Linked DNA regions of Homo sapiens. The protein of the gene in region 1 interacts with the protein of each later gene in a pairwise test. Each region holds a gene or a part of one and is shown in the gene's direction. Other genes may lie near its edges. The genes, in order: MRM3, UBIAD1, GAD2 and GALNT2.

Evidence for each region.
Region 2: the proteins of MRM3 (region 1) and UBIAD1 interact in binary tests that used the Homo sapiens proteins (3 or more experiments, as listed by UniProt).
Region 3: the proteins of MRM3 (region 1) and GAD2 interact in binary tests that used the Homo sapiens proteins (3 or more experiments, as listed by UniProt).
Region 4: the proteins of MRM3 (region 1) and GALNT2 interact in binary tests that used the Homo sapiens proteins (3 or more experiments, as listed by UniProt).

The regions. Positions count from the first base shown.
Region 1 is NC_000017.11:785,323-792,472, forward strand, and holds part of MRM3 (rRNA methyltransferase 3, mitochondrial isoform 1 precursor), read left to right. Parts: intron 1-554; exon of another isoform or gene 555-573; intron 574-2,642; coding exon 2,643-2,810; intron 2,811-6,211; coding exon 6,212-6,747; 3' UTR 6,748-7,150. UniProt on the Homo sapiens protein: S-adenosyl-L-methionine-dependent 2'-O-ribose methyltransferase that catalyzes the formation of 2'-O-methylguanosine at position 1370 (Gm1370) in the 16S mitochondrial large subunit ribosomal RNA (mtLSU rRNA), a conserved modification in the peptidyl transferase domain of the mtLSU rRNA.
Region 2 is NC_000001.11:11,268,276-11,276,236, forward strand, and holds the start of UBIAD1 (ubiA prenyltransferase domain-containing protein 1), read left to right. Parts: upstream 1-4,922; 5' UTR 4,923-5,256; coding exon 5,257-5,785; intron 5,786-7,961. UniProt on the Homo sapiens protein: Prenyltransferase that mediates the formation of menaquinone-4 (MK-4) and coenzyme Q10. MK-4 is a vitamin K2 isoform present at high concentrations in the brain, kidney and pancreas, and is required for endothelial cell development.
Region 3 is NC_000010.11:26,219,652-26,226,801, forward strand, and holds part of GAD2 (glutamate decarboxylase 2), read left to right. Parts: intron 1-4,235; coding exon 4,236-4,326; intron 4,327-4,887; coding exon 4,888-5,000; intron 5,001-7,150. UniProt on the Homo sapiens protein: Catalyzes the production of GABA.
Region 4 is NC_000001.11:230,062,623-230,070,267, forward strand, and holds the start of GALNT2 (polypeptide N-acetylgalactosaminyltransferase 2 precursor), read left to right. Parts: upstream 1-4,615; 5' UTR 4,616-4,658; coding exon 4,659-4,784; intron 4,785-7,645. UniProt on the Homo sapiens protein: Catalyzes the initial reaction in O-linked oligosaccharide biosynthesis, the transfer of an N-acetyl-D-galactosamine residue to a serine or threonine residue on the protein receptor.

The DNA.
Region 1 (7,150 bases):
CCTTTTTCCAATTTTTCTCTTTTCCCATAAATTCTTTCCATAAAACTTTAGAGATTAATAATGTAGAGATTATATAATGTAGATTATTATATAATGTATATATAATTTTATCATGTAGAGATCATTAAATAAGGAGAGAATTTTCCACTAAGAAGGCCACTTAGGGTTTTCATTTTCCCAGATAGTCCCAGACCCCATTTTACTCCTTTGTATTAGACTGAGGACAGAGCGGTCGCCAGTAAGTGGCTGTACCCATTCTAAAGCTCCCAGGCTTCTGGACCTCCAGCGTGAGGCCTTGGAAGTGACTCAAGCGTTCACTGCACCTACAGCCCCTTCGTTTTGCAGAGTATGTCCCTAAGACAGTGCTTCTGAGCCAGCGTATTTGAAAAAGGGGTTGTTACTTTGATGCATTCAAGTTTTGAAATTCATATTCTTTTTCCTAGGAATGTAGTTTGAATTTTAAAATGAGTGATAAAGGAAAGATAAATCAGTATAGCAGGCTAATAATTGTTTTTTAAATATTTAAGCCTATAAACTATTTTTTAAAAGCCTACCTGGTAGGAAGATGGGCACAGGTTGTAGAAACAAGACAGTTAAAGGAGCACAGGAATTCACTGAAGAAGATCGCAGTCAGTCAGTAAGGTGTTTAGCTTCTCTAGTAATCAGAGAAAAGGCAAGTTAAAATAATGGCATGCTGTTTTTTCTATCACATTGGGACAAATGGAAACAAATGATAGACCCGCTTTTAAGAAGGGTTTGAGCTGGAAAACAGGTTTTGTTTTGTTTTGTTTTTTGTTTTTGAGATAGTGTCTCTGTTGCCCAGGCCGGAATGCAGTGGCGCGATCTTGCCTCACTGCAACCTCCACCTCCTGGGTTCAAGCAATTCTCTTGCCTCAGCCTCCTGAGTAGCTGGGATTACAGGCATGCGCCACCATGCCTGGCTAATTTTTGTTTTTTGTTTGTTTGTTTGAGACGAAGTCTCGATCTGTCGCCCAGGCGGGAGTGTAGTGGCGTGATCTCCGCTCATTGCAAGGTCCGCCTCCCGGGTTCACACCATTCTCCTGCCTCAGCCTCCCGAGTAGCTGGGACTACAGGCGCCCGTCACCACGCCCGGCTAATTTTTTTGTTATTTTTAGTAGAGACAGGGTTTCACCGTATTAGCCAGGATGATCTTGATCTCCTAACCTCATGATCCGCCCACCTCAGCCTCCCAACATGCTGGGATTACAGGCATGAGCTACCGTGCCTGGCCTAATTTTTGTATTTTTATTAGAGACGGGGTTTCACCATGTTGTTCAGGCTGGTCTCAAACTCCTGACCTTGTGATCCGCCCACCTCAGCCTCCCAAAGTGCTGGGATTATAGGCATGAGCCACTGCGCCCAGCCGAAAACAGGTATTTATGAGTTCCTGATGTGAATAAACTGAAAGAGCCTGTGTGAACGTTAATAGTGCACGCACATCATTTGTCCATTTCACTCACAGGTATTTATGCTAGAGAAATTTTTAGACACATGGACAGACAGTCCTACAGGGATACCCATTGCAGCAGCATTTGTAACAGGGAAAAATTCAAATAATTTAACAGTCCATAGGGGAAGAGCTAAATGAACTGTGGTACATTCATACTACAAAATAGAGGCTGGGCATGGTGGCTCACAACTGTAATCCCAGCACTTTGGGAGGCCGAGGAGGGTGGATCACCTGAGGTCAGGAGTTCGAGACCAGCCTGGCCAACATGGCAAAATCCCGTCTCTATTAAAAATACAAAAAATTAGCCGGGTGTGGTTGCGGGTGCCTGTAATCCCAGCTACTTGGGAGGCTGAGAGGCAGGAGAATTGCTTAAACCCGGGAGGCAGAGGTTGCAGTGAGCCAGCATTACACCATTGTACTCCAGCCTGGGCAACAGAGTGAGAGAGTGGGACTCTGTCTCAAAAAAAAATAGCCTACAGCAGTTAAAGGAAAAAAGTAGCTTCAAACATATTGACATGGTAAGTTCAAGATATATTGTTGCGTAAATAAGTCGATTACAGAATAATACAGAGTATGACACGGAATGTAAAACACATTTACATATGGACAGGTGTGCATATATATAGGTAGATGCATAGAACAAGTTCTAAAAGGATACACTCCAAAACAGAACAGTTGAGGGGGAGGAGAGTGGTACTGGTAGAATTTTATGTTGTTTGAATTTTGCCAATCAGAATGTATTCGTGGTTTTTTTTTTCCTTTTTTTTCTTTTTGAGAGGGAGTCTCACTGTGTCGCCCAGGCTGGAGTGCAGTGGCGTGATCTTGGCTCACCACAACCTCCACCTCCCAGATTCAAGCGATTCTCCTGCCTCAGCCTCCCAGGTAGCTGGGACTAGAGGCATGCGCCACCACGCCTGGCTAATCTTTGTGTTTTTAGTAGAGACGAGGTTTTGCCACGTTGGCCAGGCTGGTCTCGGACTCCTGACCTCAGGTGATCCACCCGCCTTGGCCTCCCGAAGTGTTGGGATTACAGGCATGAGCCAGTACACCTGGCCTGTATTCCTGTATTTTTATGTAACTAAGACCATATCAAGATTGATAAGTAAATGAAAAGTCAGACTATTCCCCGTGCCCACACCAGGCAAGTAAACCACCTGTTTTGTTTCCTCAGGGATTTTTGCCAAGCCTGACCATGTTAAGATGACATATCCAAAGACTCAGCTTCAGCATTCACTGCCTTTATTATTGATTTGTGACAATCTCCGTGACCCTGGGAACCTGGGGACAATTCTGAGATCTGCAGCTGGGGCAGGCTGCAGCAAAGTGTTACTCACCAAAGGTAAGGACATCAAAGGCCAGGCATAGTGGCTCACACTCGTAATCCAGCCCTTTGGGAGGCCGAGGCAGGAGGGTCACTTGAGCCCAGGAGTTCAGGACCATCCTGGGCAACATAGTGAGACCTCATCTCTACAAAAAAAACTACAATTAGCTGGGTGTGGTGGGGTGTGCCTGTACTCAGTCCCAGCAACTTGGGAGGCTGAGGTGGGAGGATTGCTTGAGCCTGGGATGTCAAAGCTCATCACATGTCAAGTGAGCTCATCACTGCACTCCAGCCTGGGCGACAGAGTGAGACTCCCTCTCAAAAAAATAATAAACCAGGTGGATTAGTTGGTCTGGTCTTTTTTTTTTTTTTTTTTTTTATTAAAGAGATGGGGTCTCACTATGTTGCCCAGGCTGGTGTTGAACTGGCTCTGACTCAAGCAGTCCTCCTGCCTCAGTCTCCCAAAGTGCTGGAATTATAGGCATGAACAACTATGCCCAGCCAAGTCAATCACTGTTAGGTGAGCTATGGCTCTGGGCAGGCAGACATGCATTGGATCTTGGGTCTGCCTTCACTAGCTGTGGTCCCTGAGCAGTAGCTGGAATGACAGGCATGAATAACCACGCCCAGCCAAGTCGACCATTGTTAGGTGAGCTAGGGCTCTGGGCAGGCAGACACGGCTTTGGATGGGTCTGCCTTCACTAGCTGTGGTCCCTGAGCAGTAGTCCCTGAAGTGTCAGCTTCCTCGTTGGTGAACTGGGAGGAATAACAGAATCTCCCTGGTCACTGTGAGGATTAAGTGAGATGATGCACAGAAGTTACTTCATACCTTACCTGCCTCACGAGTAATTCAGTCAATGTTGATTCTCTTTTTTAAAAATTATGTTTTTTGTAGAGACGGGGTCTTGCTGTGTTGCCCAGGCTAATCTGGAACTCCTAAGCTCAAGGGATCCTCCTGCCTCGGCCTGTCAAAGTGCTGAGATTATAGGCATTAGCCGCCATACCCAGCCATGTTTATTATCTTTTAAAATTATCATGAAACCTGCTAGGCTGTTAGAGAACTTCACATCGATTATGGAAAAGAAATAGATGCCAATTTTAACACTTGGTTTCTGGTTCTTTATGTAATGATATTGAGTTCCCAAATTGCTGAGTATATGAGCCACTCCTGAGTCTTGACTTCTGAATCCTATGAAAGGAATGACGTCAGCAGCTCTGAATCCTAATGTCATTGTGATCCGTTTCCCTTAGATTCCCTTAGCCTCAGCGTGGGTCACATGCCCCGCACACAAATTCGCCTCATTACATTTCTGTCTCTTCTCATCAGAAATAGGGATTAATAGGCTTGGCTCTAAACAGACTTTCCTCACAGTTGGAGCACGCCTAAAATGTCTCTTACACCTTGGGAGGTGGAGGGGACAGAGAGTACCATTCATCAGAAACACCCCAGCCACCATTAAAAGTAAACTAATAGTGGCACCCGTTGTTGAGACTTGCCTAAATTGCTGCTCGCAGCTCTTTCTCAGTCACGCCTTGCTAGAATACGTTTCTGTGCCAGTGTGAGAGCTACGTGCTGGGGTTCTGTGATCAGTACCCGCTTACTCGCCCCATTATTTAGTGCTCTGATAGCTGTTGTGGGATTTGGAAATAAATCTAAATAATCCAAGCATTGTGGTTTTCACATTGATACTGATGGCTGGGGTGTAAGAAATAGGGAAAGAAGGTAGGAAATACTTGGTGTGGTGCCCAGTATCCAGGACATGAGGATGACGGGAGGAGTCTCGCCTTTCCCCTTTCCCTTCTCCCCTCCAGGCAGAGGGGTCAGCCTCGGCCGCTCCTCTCACACGCCTGGGCCTATCTCTGGTTTCCTGCAGGGAGAGGGAAAGCCCGTGGCTGGGGGTGCAGGCGCTGTTACATCCTCTGTGTCTTATTCTCCGTTTAAAATCTGGTTTGCCTGGTTCGTCTATCCCGAGGTTTGACAAATGAACTTCTAAAATAACTCGTCAGGAGAAGACTTGCGCTAACAAGCTGTGCGGGGGAGGGTGGGAGGCCATGCAGTCACTGCGAGGCCCCACCCTCGGCCACTCTCCCAGCCCGCCCGTGGTGAGGAGCCGCCCCTGGGAAAGGCCAGGCGTCGCAGGCTGCTGCCGGGGTTGCCTCTTGCCTCATTGCCTCATCTCTAGAGTGTTCCCTGCTCCGGTGCAGACTGAACGTTGAAGCCCAATGGGTCTTGATGAAACTATAGATCTGATTCTGTCACTGCTTTGCTTAAGATCCCTCAATGGCATGATACTGTCTTCTGATAAAATGCCAAACTCCTCAGCTTCCCATAGGAGGCCTCCTCCGTGTTGGCCTGCCCACCTCCCACCTCCTGTGCCACTACAGCCCCAGCGCTGATTGACCGGCTCACTGCCTGTGCCACCACACCCCCACCCGCTGATTGGCTGGCTCACCTCCTGTGCCGCCACAGCGCCACCGCTGATTGGCCGGCTCACCCCCTGTGCCGCCACAGCACCACCAGTGATTGGCAGGCTCACCTGTGCCACCACACCCCCACCCGCTGATTGGCCAGCTCACCTCCTGTGCCACCACACCCCCCCACCCGCTGATTGGCCACCTCAACTGTGCCACCACACCCCCACCGGCTGATTGGCTGGCTCACCTCCTGTGCCGCCACAGCGCCACCGCTGATTGGCCGGCTCACCCCCTGTGCCGCCACAGCACCACCAGTGATTGGCAGGCTCACCTGTGCCACCACACCCCCACCCGCTGATTGGCCAGCTCACCTCCTGTGCCACCACACCCCCCCCCCACCCGCTGATTGGCCACCTCAACTGTGCCACCACACCCCCACCGGCTGATTGGCTGGCTCACCTCCTGTGCCGCCACAGCGCCACCGCTGATTGGCCGGCTCACCATGCTTGCAGTCCTTAGGCTGCGCCACTCTCCCGCTTCCTCTCCTAGCTCTGTCCTCTGCCTGGGCCTTTATCTCAGTGTGGTGGTCTTTTAGATGGTTTTCCTCATCGCCCTGCTTTGTCCGTGGGTTTTCTATGACTGTGTGGGTGCTTCTTTTACATCAGTTACTGATACTGTAGCCATCTGTTTAATACCACCCCACTACACTGTGCGTTCCTTGGGGTTGGGGACTTTCATTATCTTTGCATCTTCTGCGCAGTGTCTGGCACGTGTGAATGGGAGATGTTGAAGGGATGCATAAAATATCTTCAGCACTAGCAGGAGTGACTCCTATAGTCGCTGTGCTGGATGCTGTCAGAGAGAGGCAGAAGGTCCCATCCCTCAAGAAAGCTATCATAGAAGAACTGGTTTATCTCCTGATCCAAAATTGATCAGACTTACTCCACAGTCCCCTGGTCTGGGAAGATTTGTAACATCTTGATTGTTTCCTTTTTATTTTCCAGGCTGTGTGGATGCCTGGGAGCCCAAAGTGCTCCGGGCGGGTATGGGCGCACATTTCCGGATGCCCATTATCAATAATCTGGAATGGGAAACCGTGCCCAATTACCTGCCCCCTGACACTCGGGTCTATGTGGCTGACAACTGTGGCCTTTATGCCCAGGCTGAGATGTCTAATAAAGCTAGTGACCATGGCTGGGTGTGTGATCAACGAGTGATGAAGTTTCACAAGTATGAGGAAGAGGAAGATGTAGAAACCGGAGCCAGTCAAGATTGGCTGCCTCATGTTGAGGTTCAGAGTTACGACTCGGACTGGACAGAGGCGCCGGCAGCTGTGGTGATTGGCGGGGAGACCTACGGCGTGAGCCTGGAGTCCCTGCAGCTGGCCGAGAGCACTGGTGGCAAGAGGCTGCTGATCCCCGTTGTGCCTGGTGTGGACAGCCTCAACTCGGCCATGGCGGCAAGCATCCTGCTTTTCGAAGGGAAAAGACAGCTGCGGGGGAGGGCGGAGGACTTGAGCAGGGACAGGAGTTACCACTGAGGACGCAGAAGTGACTTCTGCTTGAGGACGTCTGCAGCTCCTCCTACACCAGCACACTGGTGGGAGGCTGGCGGAGTCAGTGACTATGGCCCCCACGTTCAGGAGGAAGGTGTGATGCCGTCATACAGTTACAGGAAAAATAAGAACTTCCTCAGAAAGAACAGGTCCGAATTCTTCCTGTCGCGTCACTGATTTTGAGGTTCTTTTTTCTCTTGGTGACAATAGGTGACCCACGTGGCTCTGTGTGTTTTTAAAAATTGTCCACCAAGAAGCACTTTGTGCCCAGAAAGTTCCTGAAGCATCATCCTGGCAGGGAGGCGCCTGCTCCACCAGCTGGTGGGTGTTTGTAATCGCCAAGCACCAGCTATAGGTCACAGCCACATCACTCACAGCTGATCACTGG
Region 2 (7,961 bases), on another chromosome or scaffold:
CTCGGCAGAGTAGCTGGGATTATAGGCGCACCCCACTGTACCCGGCTAATTTTTTGTATTTTTAGTAAAGACAAAGTTTCACCATGTTGGCCAGGCTGGTCTTGAACTCCTGACCTCAGGTAATCTGCCTGCCTCAGCCTCGCAAAGTGCTAGGATTACAGGTGTGAGCCACTGTGTCCAGCCTAATTTTTGTATTTTTAGTAGAGACGGGGTTTCACAATGTTGGCCAGGCTGGTCTCGAACTCCTGACCTCAAGTGATCAGCCTGCCTTGGCCTCCCAAAGTGCTGGGATTACAGGTGTGAGCCACCGCACCTGGCCCCTGATTAATTTTATAAAGTTTGTTGGGACGGTTTCATTTCCATCTTGGTACACACAGAGTTTCTTGTCCTTTTGTTGTTGCTACAGCTGCATAGTGTTCTATCACATGGCTGTGCCATAGTTCATTTTCCAGTCCTCTGTGAATGGACATTTGTGTTATGTCCAAATTTGTGCTATTACAAATGCTGCAGTGAATGCCTTTGTACGTATATCATTTTCTTCCCTGACAGCTATATCAAGATAAATTCCCAGAAATGGGATTACAGGGTTAGACAGTTTTGTTGAATCTTGTCAAGTTGATCTCTATAAGGGAGGTACCAATTTTTATTCCCATCAGCCATATAGGAGATTTTTGCCACCCTGAGATATGATACAGCCCTGTTTTCTAATTAATAATCAAAGATGATTTTATAGCAACAGTAATAAGTGCGTTTGTCGGTTTCTTTTCTGTTTACAAAGAACTTTCTTTTTTATTGTATTTTTGCAAGTCTTTTTATTTTATTATTATACTTCAAGTTCTAGGGTACATGTGCACAACGTGCAGATTTGTTACATAGGTATACATGTGCCGTGTTGGTTTGCTGCACCCATCAACTTGTCATTTACATTAGGTATTTCTCCTAACGCTATCCCTCCCCCAGCCCCCCAACCCCCAACAGGCCCCGGTGTGTGATGTTCCCCTCCCCGTGTCCATGTGTTCTCATTGTTCAACTCCCACTACAAAGAACTTTCTTATGCATTACACTAAAATAATAGCTAATATTTATTGAGCACTTACAGTGTATCAGGGATTTTGGTGGACATTATAGAGTACTTGTTAAAAGCAGCTTGGAGTCAAGTCAAACTAACTGAATCTGAAATTTGGCTGCAACACTTTGTACCTATTTCCTTATGTGTAAAACTGGAAGGATTATAGTCTCTTCGTTGGTAGGCAGTATTGTGGGGGTTAAACGCTAATACCACACGTAAAGTACCTAAAAGAGGTACTTGGCCCAGCATGGTGGCTCACACCTGTAATCCCAGCACTTTGGGAGGCCAAGGCAGGTGGATCACCTGAGGTCAGGAGTTCGAGATCAGCTTGGTAAAACCCTATCTCTACTAAAAATATAAAAATTAGCTGAGCATGGTGGCAGACGCCTGTAATCCCAGTTACTCAGGAGGCTGAGGAGGAGAATCACTTGAACCTGGGAGGTGGAGGTTACAGTGAGCCGAGATCGCACCACTGCACTCCAGCCTGGGCGACAGAGCAAGACTCCGTCTCAAAAGCAAACAAAGTATATGGCTCATGTGAAAAGTCAATAAATGCTGTTTACTATTATTCCTGAGCATTTCTATGAGGCAGGTTGTATTGTTCCCACCTTATATATAAGTAAGCCAAAGAACAGAGATATTGGGACATGGAATTGGTAAGTGATAGAGCCAGGATTTTAATCTATCTGCTGATATATTGTCTGATTTGACATTGTATGACTCATGGGTTTGGCCAGCATAGAAAGCTCTGTGTTGAGTGGTGAAGTTGTAATGTTCAACAACCAGATTGGGGGTAAGTGGAAGCAGACATGTACAGAGCTAGCTTCACAGCTGTGTCATGCTCTGTTTTGCAATTGTTAATGATTTTGAACAAGAGGCCCCACTTATTTTTTTTATTTTTTAAATTAATTAATTATTTTTTTTGAGATGGAGTTTTGCTCTTATTGTCCAGGCTGGAGTGCAATGGCACGATCTCGGCTCACCGCAACCTCCACCTCCCGGGTTCAAGTGATTCTCCTGCCTCAGCCTCCTGAGTAGCTGGGATTACAGGCATGCGCCACCACTCCCGGATGATTTTGTATTTTTAGTAGAGACGGGGTTTCTCCATGTTGGTCAGGCTGGTCTTGAACTCCCAACCTCAGGTCATCTGACCACCTTGGCCTCCCAAAGTGCTGGAATTACAGGCGTGAGCCACCGTGCCTGGCCTGGCCCCACTTATTTATTGATTTTATTTTATTTTTTTGAGATAGGATCTCACTCTATTACCCAGGCTGGAGTGCAGGGGCACAATCATGACTCACTGCAGCCTCAACTTCCCAGGCTCAGGTGATTCTTCCGCCTCAGCCTCCCAAGTAGCTGGGACCACGGGTGCACACTGCCACGCCTGGCTAATTCTTTTACTTTTTCTTTTTCTTTTTTTTTTTTTTTGAGATGGAGTCTTGCTCTGTCGCCCAGGCTGGAGTGCAGTGGCACGATCTCGGCTCACTGCAAGCTCCGCCTCCGGGGTTCATGCCATTCTCTTGCCTCAGCCTCCCAAGTAGCTGGGACTACAGGTGCCTGCCACCACGCCTGGCTAATTTTTTTGTATTTTTAGTAGACATGGTGTTTCACCATGTTAGCCAGAATGGTCTTATCTCCTGACCCCATGATCTGCCCGCCTCGGCCTTCCAAAGTGCTGGGATTACAGGCGTGGGCCACTGCACCTGGCCCACACCTGGCTAATTCTTCGATTTTTACCGTGTGGTCCAGGCTGGTCTTCTCCTGGGCTCAAGCGATCCACCTGCCTTGTCCTCCCAAAGTGTTGGGATTACAGGTGTGAGCCACCACATCTGGTCTTTTTAATTTTTTAGAGCGGAGATCTCACTTTGTTGCCCAGGCTGGTCTCTAACCTGAGCTCAAGAGATCCTCCCGCCGGGTGCGGTGGCTCACACCTGTAATCCCAGTACTTTGGGAGGCTGAGGCAGGCGGATCACGAGGTCAGGAGATAGAGACCATCCTGGCTGACACGGTAAAACCTTGTCTCTACTAAAAATACAAAATAATTAGCCGGGCGTGGTGGCGGGCGCCTGTAGTCACAGCTACTCGGGAGGCTGAGGCAGGAGAATGGTGTGAACCCTGGAGGCGGAGCTTGCAGTGAGCCGAGATTGTGTCACTGCACCCCAGCCTGGGCAACAGAGCAAGACTCCGTCTCAAAAAAACCTCCTGAGTAGCTGGGACTACAGGCACACATTATCACCCCCAGCTCCACCTCTTTAGTTTGCACTGGGTACCACAAATTATGTAGTCAGTCCTGTGTGCATCTATGTTGCATGTGTATTATAATTTCACTGATGTAAATGATGTGTAGCATACAGTTTACAAATACTAAAATATACAGTACAGGACTCTATTGTAAACTCCATATAGCCAGTTCTCACAGTATGCTTTCTTTGATGTTGTGTAGCTTCCCTATGGTCCCAATTGATCAATGAGCATAGTTCAGACATGAATGTTGGTTGATATTTTATGTTAGGAGTAAGAGGAAAGTGAAACAATCAAAAGAGATATGTCAGAACTTCACTAGTTTGTCAAGGCTACAAGCGACTTATTTGTTCAACTGGATAATAATTTGCCAATGCTGAACGAATATTTCCTCAAAGTTTTGGTGCATTCACTTACACACTTTTTTTCTCTCTTTTTTTTCTTTTTTGAGACGGAGTCTCGCTCTACTGCCCAGGCTGGAGTGCAGTGGCGTGATCTTGGCTCACTGCAGCCTCTGCCTCCAGGGTTCAAGCAATTCTCCTGCCTCAGCCTCCCGAGTAGCTGTGATTACAGGAATGCACCACCACCCCCGGCTAATTTTTTTTTTTTTTTTGAGATGGAGTCTCACTCTGTTGCCCAGGCTGGAGCCCATTGGCATGATCTTGGCTCACTGCAACCTCCATCTCCCGGGTTCAAGCAATTCTCCTGCCCCAGCCTCCCGAGTAGCTGGGATTACAGGTGCCTGCCACCACGCACGGCTAATTTTTGTATTTTTAGTAGAGACAGGGTTTCGCTATGTTGGCCAGGCTGATGTCGAACTCCTGACATCAAGTGATCCGCCTGCCTCGGCCTTCCAAAGTGCTGGGATTACAGGCGTGAGCCACCGCACCCTCCAACACTTTTAAGTTTAACCAGTAATATGAACATTTTCTCCGCCACTTTCTTAAGTCTAGACGACTTAGCAGTTATTAAGCATTTGCTGATTTGCGTGGTGTAAATTCTCCCACCATGGGCAGATTTCAAGCTGCTGAAGGATGTCACTGAATGAAAAGCTGATAAGAGGTGAGCAGTAGCACATCATAGAGTATTTCCACGGTGCAGATATGATAGACGTCAGAATGTATGCACACAGCAGGCGCTCAATAAATGCTTGTAGCATGAATAAATTAATGAATCCTACTTCGTGAATGAAAGTGCGCCCGGTAAGTCCTAAAGCAACACGCCTTCGAGTTCTTATGATGCTAAGAGAGGCTGATTGCAGTTAGTCTGGAAGTAGCTGCGGGGCGCAGTGCAGGCAGGAAAAGGGCTGGATGCCGGGTCACCGCCCGGCCCCAGCTCCTGGCCCGTCCCCGCTCCCGGTCCATTCCCGCCCCGGCCCCGCCCCCTCCCGCCCCACCACCGGTCTGGCCCCGCCCCTCAGCCCCGCCCCACCCCTCACCGCCCTTCTCCCCGCCTCTGACCCCGCCCCTCCTCTGACTCGGCCCTGCCCGCCCCGCCTCTGACCAGGCCCCCGCCCCCCACCCCTCACCGCCCTTCTCCCCGCCTCTGGCTCGGCCCCGCCCCCTCCCGCCCTCCAGCCCACCCTCCGGTCCAGCCCGCGCCGCCGGCACCTGTTTCCGGGCGGGCCTCCAGAGGCCGGCGCACAAGATGGCGGCTCTGGCGGCCTAAAGAAGGCGGCCGCGGCTCAGCCGTGGGCTCTAACGCGGGGCTGGGGGCCGGAGACAGACTTCGCCCAGGTGACGGGTAGTAGGGGCGGCGCCGCTTGGCCTCGTGGGGTGTAAGACCCACTTGCTGTTGCCCCCGGACCTTGCCGCCACACCAGCCCTGTCCTGGGGCGGAACCGAAGGAAGGTCGGGCCCTGCTGCCCCGCCCCGTCCTTCCTCCTTCCCGGGCGGTCACTGTGCGTGGCTCACTTTTAGAGTTTACTTCAACCACGTGGAGCTTCCATGGCGGCCTCTCAGGTCCTGGGGGAGAAGATTAACATCCTGTCGGGAGAGACTGTCAAAGCTGGGGACAGGGACCCGCTGGGGAACGACTGTCCCGAGCAAGATAGGCTCCCCCAGCGCTCCTGGAGGCAGAAGTGTGCCTCCTACGTGTTGGCCCTGAGGCCCTGGAGCTTCAGTGCCTCACTCACACCGGTGGCCCTGGGCAGTGCCCTTGCCTACAGATCCCACGGTGTCCTGGATCCCAGGCTCTTGGTGGGTTGTGCCGTGGCTGTCCTGGCTGTGCACGGGGCCGGTAATTTGGTCAACACTTACTATGACTTTTCCAAGGGCATTGACCACAAAAAGAGTGATGACAGGACACTTGTGGACCGAATCTTGGAGCCGCAGGATGTCGTCCGGTTCGGAGTCTTCCTCTACACGTTGGGCTGCGTCTGTGCCGCTTGCCTCTACTACCTGTCCCCTCTGAAACTGGAGCACTTGGCTCTTATCTACTTTGGAGGCCTGTCTGGCTCCTTTCTCTACACAGGAGGTAAGATTTGGCCTGTCCTGTGTGCTGCAGGTCTTAGTCGCGTCCACTGGAAACCGCTGCTTTGTAAAGGAGTTATAGGGATGTCAAAGGTGGCTTTCTAATTTAAGCCGCTTTAATTGAAGTCTATAATTGTGGGTGATGTGAATTTTTTGAAACAGTGATTTGAGAAGATCCTGGTTTGACTTACGGACGTAGGGCATGACTGAAAATTTTATATGGACATTTATTTTTATTTATTTTTTATGTATTCATTTTTGAGACGGAGTCTCGCTCTGTCGCCCAGGCTGGAGTGCAGTGGTGCGATCTCGGCCCACTGCAGCCTCTGCCTCCCGTGTTCAAGCGATTCTCCTGCCTCAGCCTCCCGAGTAGCTGGGACTACAGGTGCACGCCACCACGCCTGGCTGATTTTTGTATTTTTATTAGAGACGGGGTGTCACCATGTTGGCCAGGATGGTCTCGATTTCCTGACCTCGTGATCCACCCGCCTCAGCCTCCCAAAGTTCTAAGATTACAGGCGTGAGCCACCGCGCCCTGTCAGGACATTTTTTAATTTTTTTTATTTTTTTTGAGACAGAGTCTCGCTCTGTTGCCCAGGCAAGGGTGCAGTGGCACCATCTCGGCTTACTGCAACCTCTGTCTCCCGGCTTCAAGCGATTCTTCTGCCTCAGCTCCCCGAGTAGCTGGGACTACAGGCATGTGCCACCACGCCTGGCTAATTTTTGTATTTTTAGTAGAGACAAGGTTTCACCATGTTGGCCAGGCTGGTCTTGAACTCCTGACCTCATGACCTGCCTGTCTTGCCCTCCCAAAGTGCTGGGATTACAGGCGTGAGCCACCATGCCCGGCCTATATGGACATTTTTTCTGTCTCATTTTTTTTTTTAATCACTCATACTTTATAATGCCACAGTTTCAAATATTAGAATTAAATCTGAAGAGTTCAAAATGATATAGATAATTACTTCTAGCTAGTTTGCTAGGTGACTTCTTGCAAGAGGCTGATTAAGGTAGTGATGGGCAGGTGGGTAAGCCCTATTTATTGAGCACCTATTATGTGCCAGGCACTGTTCTGTGTGAACACAGCAGTCACAGATCCCTGCCCTTGTGAAACTTACGTATTATCATGAAAAGAGACAGAAAGTAAAAATAGAAAATTATAGTTAGGGTGACCAATATCCTGGTTTGCTCAGGACTAAGGTGACAGGACTAAGTCGGATGTGCGACTTCTGGAGCTAAAACCAGAAAAGTTCCTGGTAAGTCAGGTTGAATTGATCACCCTGATTATAGTATATGAAAGATGATAAGTGCTATGGGAAAAAAAAGTAGAGCAAAGAATGGGACACAGATTACTATTTTAAGTAGTTTGATCAGGGTAGGCTTCATCAAAAAGGTAACATTTGGCTGAGTGCAGTGGCTCATGTCTGTAATCCCAGCCCTTTGGGAGGCTGAAGCGAGAGGATCGCTTGAGGCCAGGAGTTAAACACCAGCCTGGGCAACATAGACCCCTGTCTGTATAAAATATAAAATAAAAAATATTAGCTGGGCATGGTGGTGCTTGCCTGTGGTCCCAGCTACTTTGGAGGCTGAGGCGGGAGAATTGCTTGAGCCCAGGGGTCAAGGCTGCAGTGAGTCCTGATCACACCACTGCACTCCAGCCTGGGCGACAGAGTGAGACCATGCCTCAGAAAGGTAGTATTTGAGTTGAGTTACATTGAAGGAGGTAAGAGGTGAGGGAGTTGGCCAAGCAGATATCTGAGAGAGGAGCATTTCAGGAAAAGCAACAGCAAGTGCCATAGGCCTTCAGGCAGGAATGTGTCCAAAGAGCTTACAGAGCAGCAAGAAGTCCAGTGTGTGAATGAAGGAGAGAGTAAAGAGAGGTAAAGTAAGAGAAGTACGTTTGGGGAGGGTAAGGAGGCACACACACGGATTATATAGACCTTGTAGGCCACTGGTCTTGGCTCTGGAATGGAGGAGCCACTGCAGGACTTTGAGCAAGGGAGTGATGTAATATAATGTTTTAAAAGAATTGCTCTGGGTAAGGTATTGAGAATGGATCAAGGGGAGTGGGGCAAGGGTAGAGGCAGGAAGACCAAGTAGGAAGCTCTTGAATAATCCAGGCAAGCGATGTTTGGTGGCTTGTATCTAGCGGGTGGTAGTGGAAGAGGTAAGTAGCCAGA
Region 3 (7,150 bases), on another chromosome or scaffold:
AAACAAAAGCCCGAATACCAGTGCTGTGCTGGTATTTTCTTTGGCATAAAACTGATCAGAAACAGGACTCACCACCCTATTAATCATTGAGTGGGAGGGATGTTTTCACATTGTGTCAAATGGCCAACCTTTCAGATTTGAATTCAGATTTTCACTTATTTTTAAGGAAATGTGCACAACACACAAGCAGGCATGATACAGACTAGCTTAGCAATTCAGCCATGTTATATAAGGATGTGTGTTCCTCCCAGCCACTGTATATGTGAGATAAAGAAAAAGGGGGGGAGGGGCAAATCAGATATCCTTAGGGGGAAATTTTTTTAAATGTACTTTTGTGGTCTCTTGGCTTTTCACAGGAGTCTTTATATTCCATCCATATTACAGCTTCATTTATAACATTTATTTGGGTGCATTCCGAGCTTTCATGTTATCTACACAAAGTCAGCCATTCATCTGCCCAGGTCTTGATTACCCTCGCTTTTTACGTTGTCTCTAATCATCCTGATACACGATGGCTGACACTTCATTACGGCAATAAAAATAAGTATGAATGAATTTCCAGGGGTGGGGAGGACTTTGTGGATCGAAGTTGATGTGTAGCCTTTAAAAGATTTGCTAGCAAATAAAAAATGTGAAATATGACATGAACATTCATCACCATAGAAACGTCATCTTTTTAGATTGCAAACATTTTGCTGATGAATTAGCAGTATTACGCTAATCAATAACAAACATTCTTAAAATGTTTGCTGTGAGAAGTTTAGTTCTTTTTTTCTTTTTGTTCACATTATTTGTACCAACAGAGAAGAAAGGTAGGCATACAAAAAGCCTTGGGACATAGATTTCTATCAAAGTCAGGCTATGGAATAGGAGTTTTGAAGGTGTATTAGACATCATCCTCAATTAACGTTCATGAAGAACCCACGTGATGTTTATACCAGGCATTAAAAATTTTCCTACCCCTCCTCAGCTTTTCCTGCATTCATAGTGCAATCCTGGGTGATGCTTTTAATTCATTTTTTGACCCATTCCCCATACCTTATATTTAGATACGTTAATAGTAAATTGCCACCTATTGTTTGTATTGCTACCAAACCAAAAAGAACCTATGGAAATGTTTTGTGTCTTCATCCTTGAAAGCTAGTGGTGCCTGAAATGCAGTCTACAGAGTTAAGATAATGGGAACTGCAAGTCAATGAAAGTAATAGTTCTGTCTATCAACGTTGCATTTAGTGCCAGGAAAAGATGGGCTAATTCAATACTTACATTTTGCCATAATGCTTATGAAACTGTTAGGTGTCACTGTAATGCATTTTATTTAAAGTTCAGATAAAAATGTGATGGATTAAGTTGGATTTCTAAGCAAGGCATATCAATTCAATCTCTCAATAGTTTTCATAACATATTTAGTCTGCTGGCCTTTTCCTTCAAATAGCATTTCAAAAAATTAACAGCAGTCATTTTCTCTATTCAGCTGGCAACTTTATAGATTTCTGTGCTATAACTGTCATACTTGTCATCTAATGCTATTTAGGGTATGTCAAATTAGTTACCATCCTTGCTACTACCAGACATTTTAATACTCCTCAAGAGATTATTTTATAAAATGCATATTATCATCTTGTTTCTACTGAGAGACCTTAACCTGATTTCCACTTGGGCTCCAAGCTTAGAGAGGAGTGAAGGGCAGTGGGAAAATGAAGTCTTCATGGATTGTTAAAATTACCTCTGTAAAAAGAAATGTTGGAACACGGAAAACTGAGCAGAGAATGATAGAATTCCAGAATAATTTGCATTTGCAGAGATCATTAGATTTGGTGCTAGTGGTGGTGGTGCTGGCTGGGGAAGAGTAGGACTTAAATGTGGTCCTGAATCTTTTACCAAACCATCAGACAAAGGGAATTAAGCGTCAGTAGATGAGGCAGCCCTAGTGTGAGTGTTGCCAGGACATAAAGAGCAGTTTGGACCGACTTTTGGCCTCTTCCCAACTGATCATGAGCACAGGGTCAGAGTTGCCTGAGGCTGGTTGTTCGCAGAGTCTGCGCATCCTTCCGGGCTCATTTGCTAGTCTGCAGGGAGCATCCCTGAGTCTGAGCAGCCAGTTCTCACATCTCAAGCTCGCCACCTTCCTGGCTGCATAGGCTGTGTGGCCACCCAATGGCTGACGCAGTGCGCTCTGCTCCCATCACAGGGCCTGGCAGGGTGGCGACAGCAGCAGGAGGCCAAGGGCTGCAGGGACACCTGACCTATGGGGGCAGGTCTCACAATTCCTTGGAGAGAGCCCTGCCTTGATTTGCTGGGCAGCCCTAGGAAGCAGCCTGTAGGGGCCACAGGATGGGAGCAAATGTCACTAGGGGAATATTTCTGCCAGAAATCGAGAGAGCCTGTTGATCTGACCTGTCAAACTATCTCCCTCCCTATTTTCACATCATCATCAGGGAATGAAATTTTTGAGGCAGGAGAGATTCAGGTGAAATGGCAGAGCAAGGTCAAAATATATATAGGGAGGAAGGGAAACCTAGCAATGAAAGCGTCAAACCTGTTTTCACTGTTTACGGAAAGTTATCATCAGGGTGAATTGGCCTTCTGATATCCAGAGGCACAACACACCCCTCACAATCTCTCTCCATCTTATGCACAGGTTTTCATTCCCAAGTTTCCCTAGAGTTAAATACTGTCTAATCATAGACACCACATTCATCCAGAAAATGAATATGAATTATAATCCTTATTAATTTCCTCACTTGAAAAAAAAAGGGTTAGGGAAAGAGAAATGAAGGAGCATCGGGAGGGAGGAAATGGCTGTGATTTCAGCTGCGAGCATAATGAAATGGGGAGTCAATGAGGCAGAGAGGAGTGAAGGGTTGCTCCAGACCTCAGTGGCCACAGCAGCAAAAAAGCCTTCTCACCCTTCGTGGATGGGTAAACTGAGGGGGTCAGCATCAGAGATAGAGGGGTACCACACGAGGCCACAAGGACATAAAACAATGCTGGAGAATGTACAATAGATACACAAGTCCTGATCCCGCTAAAATGGGCTCCCTCCCAGCTTATATCTTTACCCAGTGTCTGTCTGGCCACATGCCTGAGGCTGATAAGAGAGCACTCCAGTGCAGGAGATAAGCTAGCCATTGACTTTTGTCCCTGCTCTTCCCCATTGCCTTCCTTTATCTTGTTTTGCCTGTGCTGGAGATGAGAGACAATCACATCCCAGGCTTCAGACAGATGTCCAGGATGTGGAAGATACCTTTTTATCAGATGCTATTTCCACAATGGCCCATCTTCTAAAATTTTTGCTGCTGTGCAAATCACGGACCTATCGATGACAGGCTTTTGTGGAGCAAGAGGAGAAAACTGAATGCTAATGACATATTTATAATCACATTTTAAATAATAGCCTCAGGAGAGTGTGGATGTCAATCCATTTAGAGAGTTTTAGAGGAATCTAGAAGTTAATTAGATAAGCCTTGCGATGGACTAATCAGTCGATTGAGTATATCTTTCTGTATCTTGTTGATAAAACAGTGATGTTGACTGTATGTGGCCTTATTTTAAATCACAACTATGGAGGAGCGCTGTTGTTTATAATTAACAAAGAAGAATTGACAAGAATTAGCTTTGTCCATGCCATCTTTAGACAATCATCACCTTTTGAATCCAGGGCAAATCATTCAGCAGAGTGTCCTATTTTCTCATTTTTGCCCTGTCTTTTGTAATCATCAGCCATTTGTCACTGATATTATTATGAATGTTGGCATGCCTGGCGGATGTCATGGTATGACCGATTCTCAGAACGACTACAAAAAAGGACTTCTAGCAGCATGAGTATAAAGGAGAAGTTACCTGTCTGAATGGCTGTGGGTTGCAGTAGCATTTTAGCTTGCGAAAATATTGAAAATAGAAAAGAGACTCATGCAGATTGCAAACCATATTTGTTATATTTATAGGGTCCGATTAAAGGAAGATTTGTAGGGTATGTTTTAAGAAATATCAAAACCTAAAGTAGTCTTCGTGGTTAGAGGAAACGCTTTTATGGTGTGTGTGTGTGTGTATGTGCATGTGTGTGTGTGTGTGTGTTCTTGTGCATACACACGTGTGTACATGTTGGATTTCTACTTATGGATTTCCTGTTACTGACAGATCTTTCAAGGTCCTTTAGCTAGAGAAATCATGTGTTTGAGAGGCATTTATTTTCACTGGAGGCAATCCTGATTCTGGTATTCCATTTTATTCAGGGCATCCTAGATACTTCAATCAACTTTCTACTGGTTTGGATATGGTTGGATTAGCAGCAGACTGGCTGACATCAACAGCAAATACTAACATGTAAGTAGCCAAATGTGTTTTTATGTAATTTAGGATAATTATTAGTGACATTCCATAGTCTTTACATCTTATGTGAAAATCTGTTTTTTATTAAGTAGCCACTAAAATAGTGATACAAACTTCTGAAGTGTGAGTGTTCACTTTAATGTAACAGAAAGTAGTCCTGATACATCTTCCATGTAATCAAACTCTACAAAATTTTTAAAATACAAAAGAGACTTTTTTCTCACGTTTGATTTATTATTGTGCATAATGTCAAAGACAAATGGGACCAGATATTATATTTTAAATCATGTTACTCTGCAATATTTTTTATTTATTCAATACAATAAATTCCCCTCGTGCATTATGTCAGTAGTTGGAGCTCTTGACTGTAGGGATATAGAAAAAATAAACATTTTGGAAGGCCTTTTTGAAATAATTTTCTCTCTGCTTAATGTTATAATCATAACACTTGTAAATGTATGTTTTGAAAAAGGAAATAGTTCTGTAGCTATTGTAATGATTGTAAATTATTTATCTGAGTTACAGAGGTAAAATGTGGCCATTACTACATTTCAGGTTCACCTATGAAATTGCTCCAGTATTTGTGCTTTTGGAATATGTCACACTAAAGAAAATGAGAGAAATCATTGGCTGGCCAGGGGGCTCTGGCGATGGGATATTTTCTCCCGGTACATGATATTTCAACTTTCTTTGTGTTTTTTCTTCTAATATGCAATGCCTTGTTGTAAACCTAGGGAAGATTAAAAATCTAGCCTATGCCTCTGCTTAGGTTAAATAGACTGTGTGTTGATCAAAAGAATGACTGTGATTAAGTGCACATGACCATTGAACATGCCTCCAAGCTAAGTAACCCATGCTTGAACATCAGTTATTTGTGTGCAAAGTGAGCATAATCAGAGATGGTACTTACCCAGTGCTTCTACTGTGACCCTACAAACAGGATGTACGGATAATGTGGAACAAAGGAATCAAGATTCCTAATCAGGAAATTCACTCTCTGATGCTCTTCCTAGAATTAGTGAAAGGAAATGGGTAGCCTCATTTAATAAAGCATTTGCTGTTCAAGGGTGCATAGCAAGGTATATCTACTCAGTAGAGCATATGGACCACTCTGTCTTTGAAATAACAAGCACCAAAGTGGATTTACACTAATTTCAAGGAGGACAGAGAACGCTTTGGGAGAGAATTTCTTAGAGCAAAAATAGAGGGTGACGATTTCTTCAAGAGATTTCTCATCCCTTCTCTTCTTTATCATGCCATTCAGTCTTTTCCATCCTGCCTTTTTATCACCAGCCATTGAATTCTAAGCTCCATTACTTAGACCTCTTCCAGCCAAGAGAATCAACCTGAAACAAAAAGCTGTGCCCTTGGTTTACAGTTCTGTGTGTGACCTTGGTTTGATGCAGAAAAGAAATAGAAGTTAGGAAGGCAATGCAAAGAGAGTCACTGACCCATGGAAAAGAAACCCGATGTGCAGACCATCAGCTAATCAGTGGCAGGAGCGGATGTCATTAGTCCACTGAGACAGGACCCACCTGAGAGAGAGGCCAGAGCAACACCTGTCGTTGTGTCAGACAGAGCAAAGGCCAAGTGGTTGTGCTCTCTCTTCAGCAAATCTACAAAGACAAGCAAATGATGAGGCGGGGATAGGGGAGAAAAGAAAAAGTGAAAAGAAGAAATGATAAGCAAGAGTGACCCCAAGGCCAGGGCTTAAGTTAAGCATGTTTGCCTGCAAGCTCTGGTCAGCTATTTTATGTGTTTAAATATATAGCACAATTTTTCAGGTGCTGAAGGAAAAGGTGTTAGTTAAATGGAAGGGAAAATTAGCCTTTTAAAAAGTCATTGAACACCAGCTGTGATGAATTTTAAGCTAGCCTTTATTTTTTATGGCACTTAGTACTTAGTTTTCCTTTGGAAAGCCATCCCTGTTGAGGGAGCTTGGTCATCATTGCCTGATGCTTTGAAAACATTGTTCATGAGGAATGAGGTGGGGTACAGAGATCCACATCATTTCTACCTTTCTTCTTCCCACCCTTGTGTGGTTGGTTATAGGATTGATCTGTCCCTGAGATGAATCAAGAACATGCTGGGCTCTATTTTTTTTTCTTTTATTTGCATTTATTTTATGCTGAATTTATTCCCGTGCATAAGTTTTAATGGTCCCCGGGAGTAGGGAGAGGACAGATGTACCTGTTGACCCTGAAAATTTGACTAATTTGACTAACAGCTAGGCCTAATTTACCTGGCTGGTCTGAAAAACCTACATGCCCCAGAAAACATACACCCAGAGAAATAATTCTCTTAGGCAGTTCTGCTAGGCTTAGAGCTTACCCTCCACCCTCACTGATAATGGGGGATTTTCACATGGAGAAGACTTCAGCTTGAGCATGGGAATTATAGGCTTCCTTGGAGCCTAAAGACCCATTTGCTCTTACGCCAAGATGCAAGCCATAGATGTCACACTACAGTGCAGTGCAGACATTGCAAAGTTGGGAGGAGACAGCAGAAAAGGTCATTGCAACCTGTTTCTGCTCTACTTTCTACAAGACATCACAGACGAGAAGTGGCTCATCACATCCTTACTGGCTATGGATGCTATTCCCGGGAGCAACCAGCCTTGCTCCTGCAGTAAAGGGTCTTACAATTTAAGGGGTGGGGATAGAGAAAGCCACACATCTTATGCATCTGGGATCTAAAAGTCTCATTCCCTGGGACTCAATGTGAAGAGTTAGGTCTGTGACTTAAAACATACTGTGTCATAGCTCCATCAATAATATCCAAAGCCTTCATGCTTCATGGAAAGTCCTTTAGGACTCCT
Region 4 (7,645 bases), on another chromosome or scaffold:
TGTCTCGCTCATTTCATCTAGCATATTGTCCTCAACGTTCATCCATGTTCTGGTATGTGTTAGAATTTTCTTCTTTTTTAGGGCTGAATAATATTCCATTGCATGGATATACCACATTCTGCTTGTCCATTTATCTGTTGATAGATATTTGTGTTGTCCCACCCTTTGGCCACTGTAAATAACACTGCTATGAATGTGGATATACAAATATCCGTTTGAGTCGCTGCTTTCAATTCCTTTATGTATACAACCAGAAATGGAATTGCTGGATCATATAGTAGTTCTAAATTTAATTTTTTGAGGAACCACTATACCATTTTCAACAGCAGTGCGTAAGGGTTCCAATTTCTCTACATCCTCACCAACACTTGTTATTTATTTATTTATTTATTTTAAAAATGTTTTATAGGCTGGGCGCGGTGGCTCACACCTGTAATCCCAGCACTTTGGGAGGCTGAGGCAGGTGGATCATGAGGTCAGGAGTTTGCGACCAGCCTGGCCAATATGGTGAAACCCTGTCTCTACTAGAAATACAAAAATTAGCAGGGCATGGTGGTACATGCCTGTAGGCCCAGCTGCTTAGGAGTCTGAGGCAGGAGAATGGCTTGACCCCAGGAGGTGGAGGTTGCAGTGAGCCGAGATTGTGCCACTGCACTTTAGCCTCGGCGACAGAGCAAGTGTCCACCAAAAAAAAAAAAAAAAATTTTATATAATAGCTATCCTAATGGATATGAAGTGGTATCTCACTGTGGGTTTTTGTTGTGTTTTGTTTTTTATTTCCATAATCAACACTGGAGGTACATTACAGTTTGTCCTCATGAATTCTAGTTGTTCTCATGAGGTACATTTTGTCCTTGCAGTTTTGACTTTGTCTTTGAAATGCCCCATGTCACATCTAGCTATTCTTCTGATTCCCAGGTCTAGAAACTACAGTGACTTCAGACCTGCCCCATGTACAATGGAAAGACTTCCATAACCTTTTTTCTTCTACCTCTAACATTGTCTAAAGTTTAATCTCTATCATACATCGCTTATTCCATCAAACTAATAATGATTTTACTTTGCAGATCAAATCCTAATGATATACAATTGATAAGTGTTTAGGAAGGGAAGTTTTGGGCTATAAATTGTCCCTCTTCATCTCATTTAATGCTTTTTGGCCTACTCTGTTTTGTTTGATATCAGAATCACAGCACCTGCTTTTTCAGAGTTGGGGTTTCCGTTATGCCTACATTTGAAAATCTTTTATTTTAAAGGGTGAACTGAGCCCACTTATAAATTGTTATATCTGATGTGGGTTGGTCTCAGCTGTGTCATATTGTTTCCTATTATAACTACTGCATCACTGTGCCACACTTACTGTGTTTCTTTCATTATTTGGTATGTATTCTTTGCTATTTTTAGAACTTTTGGGGTTTTGGAATAGGGTTTCCAATATTTGGGAATACATATATTTTGTTGTAGTGATTTTTATTTATATTTTTAATATATTACCCTTAATTCCTATATTTTGTTTCTAACCTTTTAACATCTGGTCTGTCTGTTTTATATGGTATCCTTTCACTACTACCTGCTACTGATATTGCAGACAATGATATTATTCTATTTTCCCTTCGCTCTTCCCCTTCTCCTCCAGTTGTCTTTAGTTGCACCTGTTCTAAGTTTATCAGAAAGTATAATGTATATACACTAGTCTTTCACCTTCTGAATATACAAAATGCTCTCCATTAGTCACTCTGCTGGCTTCCTCAGCTGTCTCTTGGTTGGAGGAAGCTCATTCTCTAAGATTCCTCATGAAAGGCCCATGTGAGTCACGTTCTCTGAATTTTTGCATTCAGGTCATATCTGTTTGCCTACAACCTTGACACTTGAGGGCTGGGTATAAAAATCACTGCCTGGTACTTTTTTGTGTGTGTGTCATGGAGTCTCGCTCTGTCACCCAGGCTGGAGTGCAATGGCATGATCTCAGCTCACTGCAACCTCTGCCTCCCGGGTTCAAATGATTCTTCCACCTCAGCCTCTCGAGTAGCTGCGATTACAGGCACCTGCCGGCTAAGTTTCATATTTTTTTTAGTGATGGGGTTTCACCACTTTGGCCAGGCTGGTCTTGAACTCCTGACCTCAGGTGATCCACCCACTCTGGCCTCCCAAAGTGCTGGGATTACAGGCATGAGCCACTATGCCCAGCCTGCCTGGCACTTTTGTTCCTTGTTAATGCTGCTCCACTGTTGCCTGGCTTTGCATGTTGCTGTTCAGAAGTCTGATGCCAGCATAAATTTTTATCTCTATAAGCAATTTGATCTTTTTTGCCTTTAAAATCTAATCGTTTTACTAAAATATATTTAGGAGTTGATAATTCCAGATCATTTCCCAAGGTACATGGAAGTCACTTTTGACATGTACATTTAAATTTTCCCTTATTCCTGGATTATTTTCTGGGGTTATAGTTTTAATATTAATTAGGTTTTATTGTTTAATGTTTGTACTTTAGGGACTCCACTTAACATGTATTTTGGTCTTCCTTTCCTGGCTTTTATTTTAACCTCTTCTCTCTGAACCTTTTTACTTCTATCTTTATATTATTTTCAATTTCTTGATTGTTTTCTTGCCATTCTTCAGTGTCCTTTTACATATTTTCATTTGAATATATTTTCCCTTGGACACCTTGTAATTATTCTTTGTTTCTGGGATAGTTTTTGTCATTACTTTCAATTTCCTTCTTGAATTTGCTCAACCCTTGTTGCATTTCTTCCTAATTTTTGTCTAGTCTGTCTTCAGTTCTTGAAATTTCTTATCCTAGATATGTGTGTGTGTGTGTATGTGTATACAAATACGTGACACTTTGTTCAGTTTGACATGTGGTATTACAATTTTCTTATGCTTCATGGTTTTTATTGTGGGGGTTTTCATCAGCGAAAATGTTATGATTTATTTTTTATCATCAGAAATGTGATTTCTGTTTTCTTTTTGCAGAATCTTTAAATGCAGTTGATTTGATGTTTTTCTGTTACTAGGCATTTTGAGGCAGGGTTCCCGGTTCAAGAGTGTTTTCTTTTATCTGTGTACTGAAATGCAGTTTTTAATAGATAATGTTGGTGTTTGGGGAGGGGACTGGCTGTCTTCTCTTTCATTTCTGCAGGATTTGTAATTTTCCCTTCTGACTTCCTTCTTTCCCTTCATTGTCAGGCCTCTGAAGGACATTATCTTCTTTTCGTATTTATCTGACTTTTTCCCAGAAACAAGGCTCCTTCAAGCCTCTCACCTCTTGTCCCATTTTCTTTCAAATCTCTTCCCTTGATCAATAAGGCACCTGACCTCTGTTCAGTTTTTAGTTCTTGGTGTTGGACTTTCTATTTATAAAGAGGTGACAACCCTGTACTTCACTTAAGTCCTTGGCAATAGTGGAGGGAGCTCAGTTGGAATTTGGTATCTTTTCTTTCTTCTACTTAAGTAATTTAATGTTCAGTTCATGGCATTCTCTCTAAGTAATGCTGAAGGCTTGTTTTTGTTTCGTTGAGGATATGGGTACGGACTTATATCAGGCAGCTGCCATTATCCTCTGACCGAGAAGCTCCTGAAAACATTTAATATATCAAGTTCTAAGTAAAATTTCTGTCTTTCTTAGGAACACTGGAAGCTTTGCGTGTTGCAAGGGCATCACCAAGGTTACATAGATTATGTTACAAGACAGATCGTTTTCTTGTATCGTTAAAGATGCTTAATGTGCTTTTTAAAGAACGCAACGAATGAGAAAGAAAAGATTTTAAACAATATATTATTGCTTTCCTTCTTCCTCATTTTGTGTTTATTGAAAAGAACAACTCTACCATTGATAGCTCTGTCACCCACAGAAAAATGTTCTTTTGAAAATTACCTTCTCAGTTCCTACCAACTCAAAACCTCCACATCTGCCTATATAGATAAATAAAATCGATACCAGCGGGTCAGGAATGTTTTGCTGCAAGATTAGTGAGAAAACTGCAGCAAGCAGCAGCAAAGTCGGGTTCAAGCGGGCGGTTTGCACCAAAAACTCAGGTCAGTTGGCCAATAAGAGCAAGCCCGTTAAGGGTCTGAGGTGGCCCCAAAGACCAAGGCTGAAGAGGTGACAGTCTGGGCAGGAAGCACCGAGGCCACTACCGCCCCCGTAATCGAGAGGCCCCGTGTGCGTGAGCAAGGCTCTTTGCCCACGTGTGCGCGCGCTCCAGTCGGGTCCCGGGGCAGCCACCTGTCACTCACGGGGGAGGGGGCGGCCGGCGGGGGGAGCACGCTGAGGGGCGGGCGGCCGGGGGCGGGGCGGCGCCCAGGCCCTCACGGCGGAGCCCGGCGTGCTGCAGCCATGGAGACGCGGCAGTCCCCTCCCGCGGCCCGCGCCCCGGCCCCCGCAGCCGCCGCCGATTGGTCGCCCTTTGCTCCCTGACCCCCCTCGCCGCCTCCGAGGCCGCTGCTTCCTGCTCTGGTGCCGCGCGGCGCCGCCGGCCCGGGGCGGAGCTCGGGCGCCGAGTGCGCGCCGCCGCCGAGCAGTAGCACCGCGCGGGAGGAGGAGCCGCCGCCGCGCCCTTCCCCTTCCTCCGCTCCTCCCCCGGCCCCCACCGCGCCCGCGGCCGGCCCAGGCAGCACTCGCGAGCAGCGGCGGCCCCGCCGGCGGCCGAGTTGGGAGAATGCGGCGGCGCTCGCGGATGCTGCTCTGCTTCGCCTTCCTGTGGGTGCTGGGCATCGCCTACTACATGTACTCGGGGGGCGGCTCTGCGCTGGCCGGGGGCGCGGGCGGCGGCGCCGGCAGGAAGGTGAGTGGAGCGCCCTGCCGCGGCCGGGCCCCTGCGCCCACCCCCCACCCTGCGCCCCTGTCCCCTGCCCTCTCCGCGCCGCCCCTGCGCTCCTCCGCCCGGACCTCCGCTCGCGTCGCCCGCCCTCGTCCCGGGCCTCCGCGCCGAGTGCCCAGGGCAGGGGTGCACCCGGCCCCTCTGCGCACGCCGGGCTCCGAAAGGGCGGCCCCCGCAGCCTTTCTCTGCCCCCTCTCGTGGACGTCGCCCCTCTCTCTGCTCGTCGTAATTCGAGTCTTGTCCGGCCGCCGGGAGCCCCATCCCCTGCGGTTGGAAGTTTAGGGATGGGGGTGTTGGGAAACACAAAGGGGGTGGGGAGGAGAGGAGAGAGAGGCGACCGCTTTTCCAACGCGTCATGTACAGCAGGAGAGAGGAGTCCAAGTTTCTTTTCAGCCCTTTGATACCAGCGGCTGCAAATCCTCGTCCCTTTCCCCCTGTCACTCCGCGGGGCGTGGGTTCCGTGTTTCTGCCACCTTCTTTGCCCTTTACCTTTGGGGGGCAGGGGCGGCCGCTCCCGTGCCAAGTAAAGCCCCAGGGCCCGTGCGAGCCAGGGGCCAGTGCGCCCCTGCGCCCCGAGCGAGGCCAGTCCCGGCCGTTCCCTTGCGGCCCCAGCGTTACCCTCTGCCCAACCCGGCCCCCGGCCCTCCCGCGCGAGCCGGACGTGGCCTCCTGCGCTTGCATTTTCCATCCCCACTCCCCGCTTCAGGGAGAATCCCTCTTCTGTGGCTGTGTTTTTAACATGCTCCAGGGGCCGAGTGATCTGGCTGTGGGGACCGTGTGAGCCGCTCTGCGGTTCCGCGTCCTCGTGCCGCCGCTCCGGACGGCCGGGCCCTGGGCATTCGGGAGGATGGTGAGCGCCGAGAGGAGCCGGGACAGCGCGGTCCTGCGGCCGAGCGCCGGCCGGGAGAGCAGGGCGTCGGGCTGTGTGCTGGAGCATGCCGGCAGGGGACGTTTGTAGTGTTTTACTGGCTCCTCGGCTTTGAAAGCAGCGTTATCTTTTCCGAATTCCTGTAACCCTCGTTACTGTGACATTTAGTGTCACCGCAAACCCAGAAAATTCTGAGTTAATGGAGATGGACTACGGGTGGTTGGGTTGGAACAAGAGAGTGGTATCCTGAAACAAGCCAGAGGGAACTAACTAGATGAACAGACTTCAGTTCTGAAGTCAGACCCCTAAATGTCCACGCCGGGGTTTGGCTGCTTCAGAGGTTTTTTCTTTGCTTCATTCATTCATTCATAGCCGAAGATGTTAGGTGGAATGGGTGCCTTATGTGGTTTCTGGTAAATTACGTGGATTTGTTTTATCTAGAAGGGCAGAAATAAAGCCCTCTTTCCACGTGCTGAATCGGCCTAGCTTCTGAGCTGACATTGTACTCTTAGCGTTGTTTTTGTAAAAAATGGTATAGGTAGTATATGTACGCGAAGACTTGGTTTATTCTTGAACAGCAAAGAGCATGCAGGCAGCAAAAGCCGTGCAGTCCATTCAGAGATATAATCGTGTAAAACTGGAATGATTTTTAAAACTTTGCTTCCCGGTAAACTGTGCCTTGGCCACTCTGCATAGCCTGGTGTGCTGGTGAGACCTGGCAAAGCTTTCTGCCTTTCATGCAAAGAAAACCAAACACATAAGCCACCCTTGGCGTTTCTCTTTCCTTAGTCTGCCACTTTCATTAGTACACGTGATTAGAAAGAGCAAGCGTGCTCGTTCGCCTCCCGGAGGCTGATTCCTCACTCTGGTGGGCTTCAGTTCCTGGATGGTGTGAGGGGTCTTCCATGCAGAAGTCTTCAGACACTCCTGAAGTGTGTGATTCTTAGTTTGTTTTTTTTTGTTTTGTTTTGTTTTGTTTTGTTTTTTTTAAAGAATTCCTGGTGGCAATATAGACAGGTACGGAGACCAGGTAGAAAAAGTGGGGGAAATGAACAATTAATTACACATGGATTGGTGATTTGGGATTCTATTCTTTCTGTCAACGAACCATAAAATTTAATGCTACCCCTTAGGATGCTTTAGTGATTTGTCGGTTGAGGAAGAGGTGTGTAAATGCAATAGCTTTTGAAATTGCAGTGGAAGACTCATTAACTTCGTGTGGTGGACCCAGGGTTAAAGAGAAGCCTTAAGATGGTTTCTGAAGGAGGTAAATAGAGCCCTGCTGTCACGAATGCCTGATGTATAGGAAAATCGTGTAGTCTTCTTTCTTCCCCAATTGTTTCCATGGATTTAGACACTAGAAGTGTCTCTAAATTTATTTCATTCTCATACCAAAAAAAAAATGTGGTTTGTTTGGCTTGTAAAGTATGGACATAAAAAAAGATAGCGGGCCATGCACAGAAAGGCAGAATTTAAAAGCTAGCTATAGTTTTTTTAGAGATAAGTGGACCTATATTTTTTCTCTTGCCTCATACTGTTCAAGTCAGGGCTTTTATTCCATATTTAGCCAGTTTCTGCACATCCTGACGTTTTTCATAGGGTACTAGGCTGCAGTATTGGGCTTTAGGGATCGTCTGAGGGGAGTCCAACTAGGATTTCTGCTGCTTCAGCAGCCCAGCCCAGGCTTGTCATTGTGTGCCCTGCCTGTTAAGTAACTCATCACAGAACTGTTATTCTCCACTTGGCAAAACCCAGAGAGCCAGCTCACCTCAGATTGCAGGTTTAGTAAACTAAGCAGGAGGGAGTGCTGAAGACCAATCTCAGGCACTGCCGCACAACTCGGGACTCAACACCCAGGCTCAGGACATGTATGTTAAAGCAGTTTATTCAAAATATTGTTTAAAATTATGTTTCATTTACATTTGTGTCCATACCCTTTCCCCCCATATTTTGCTCT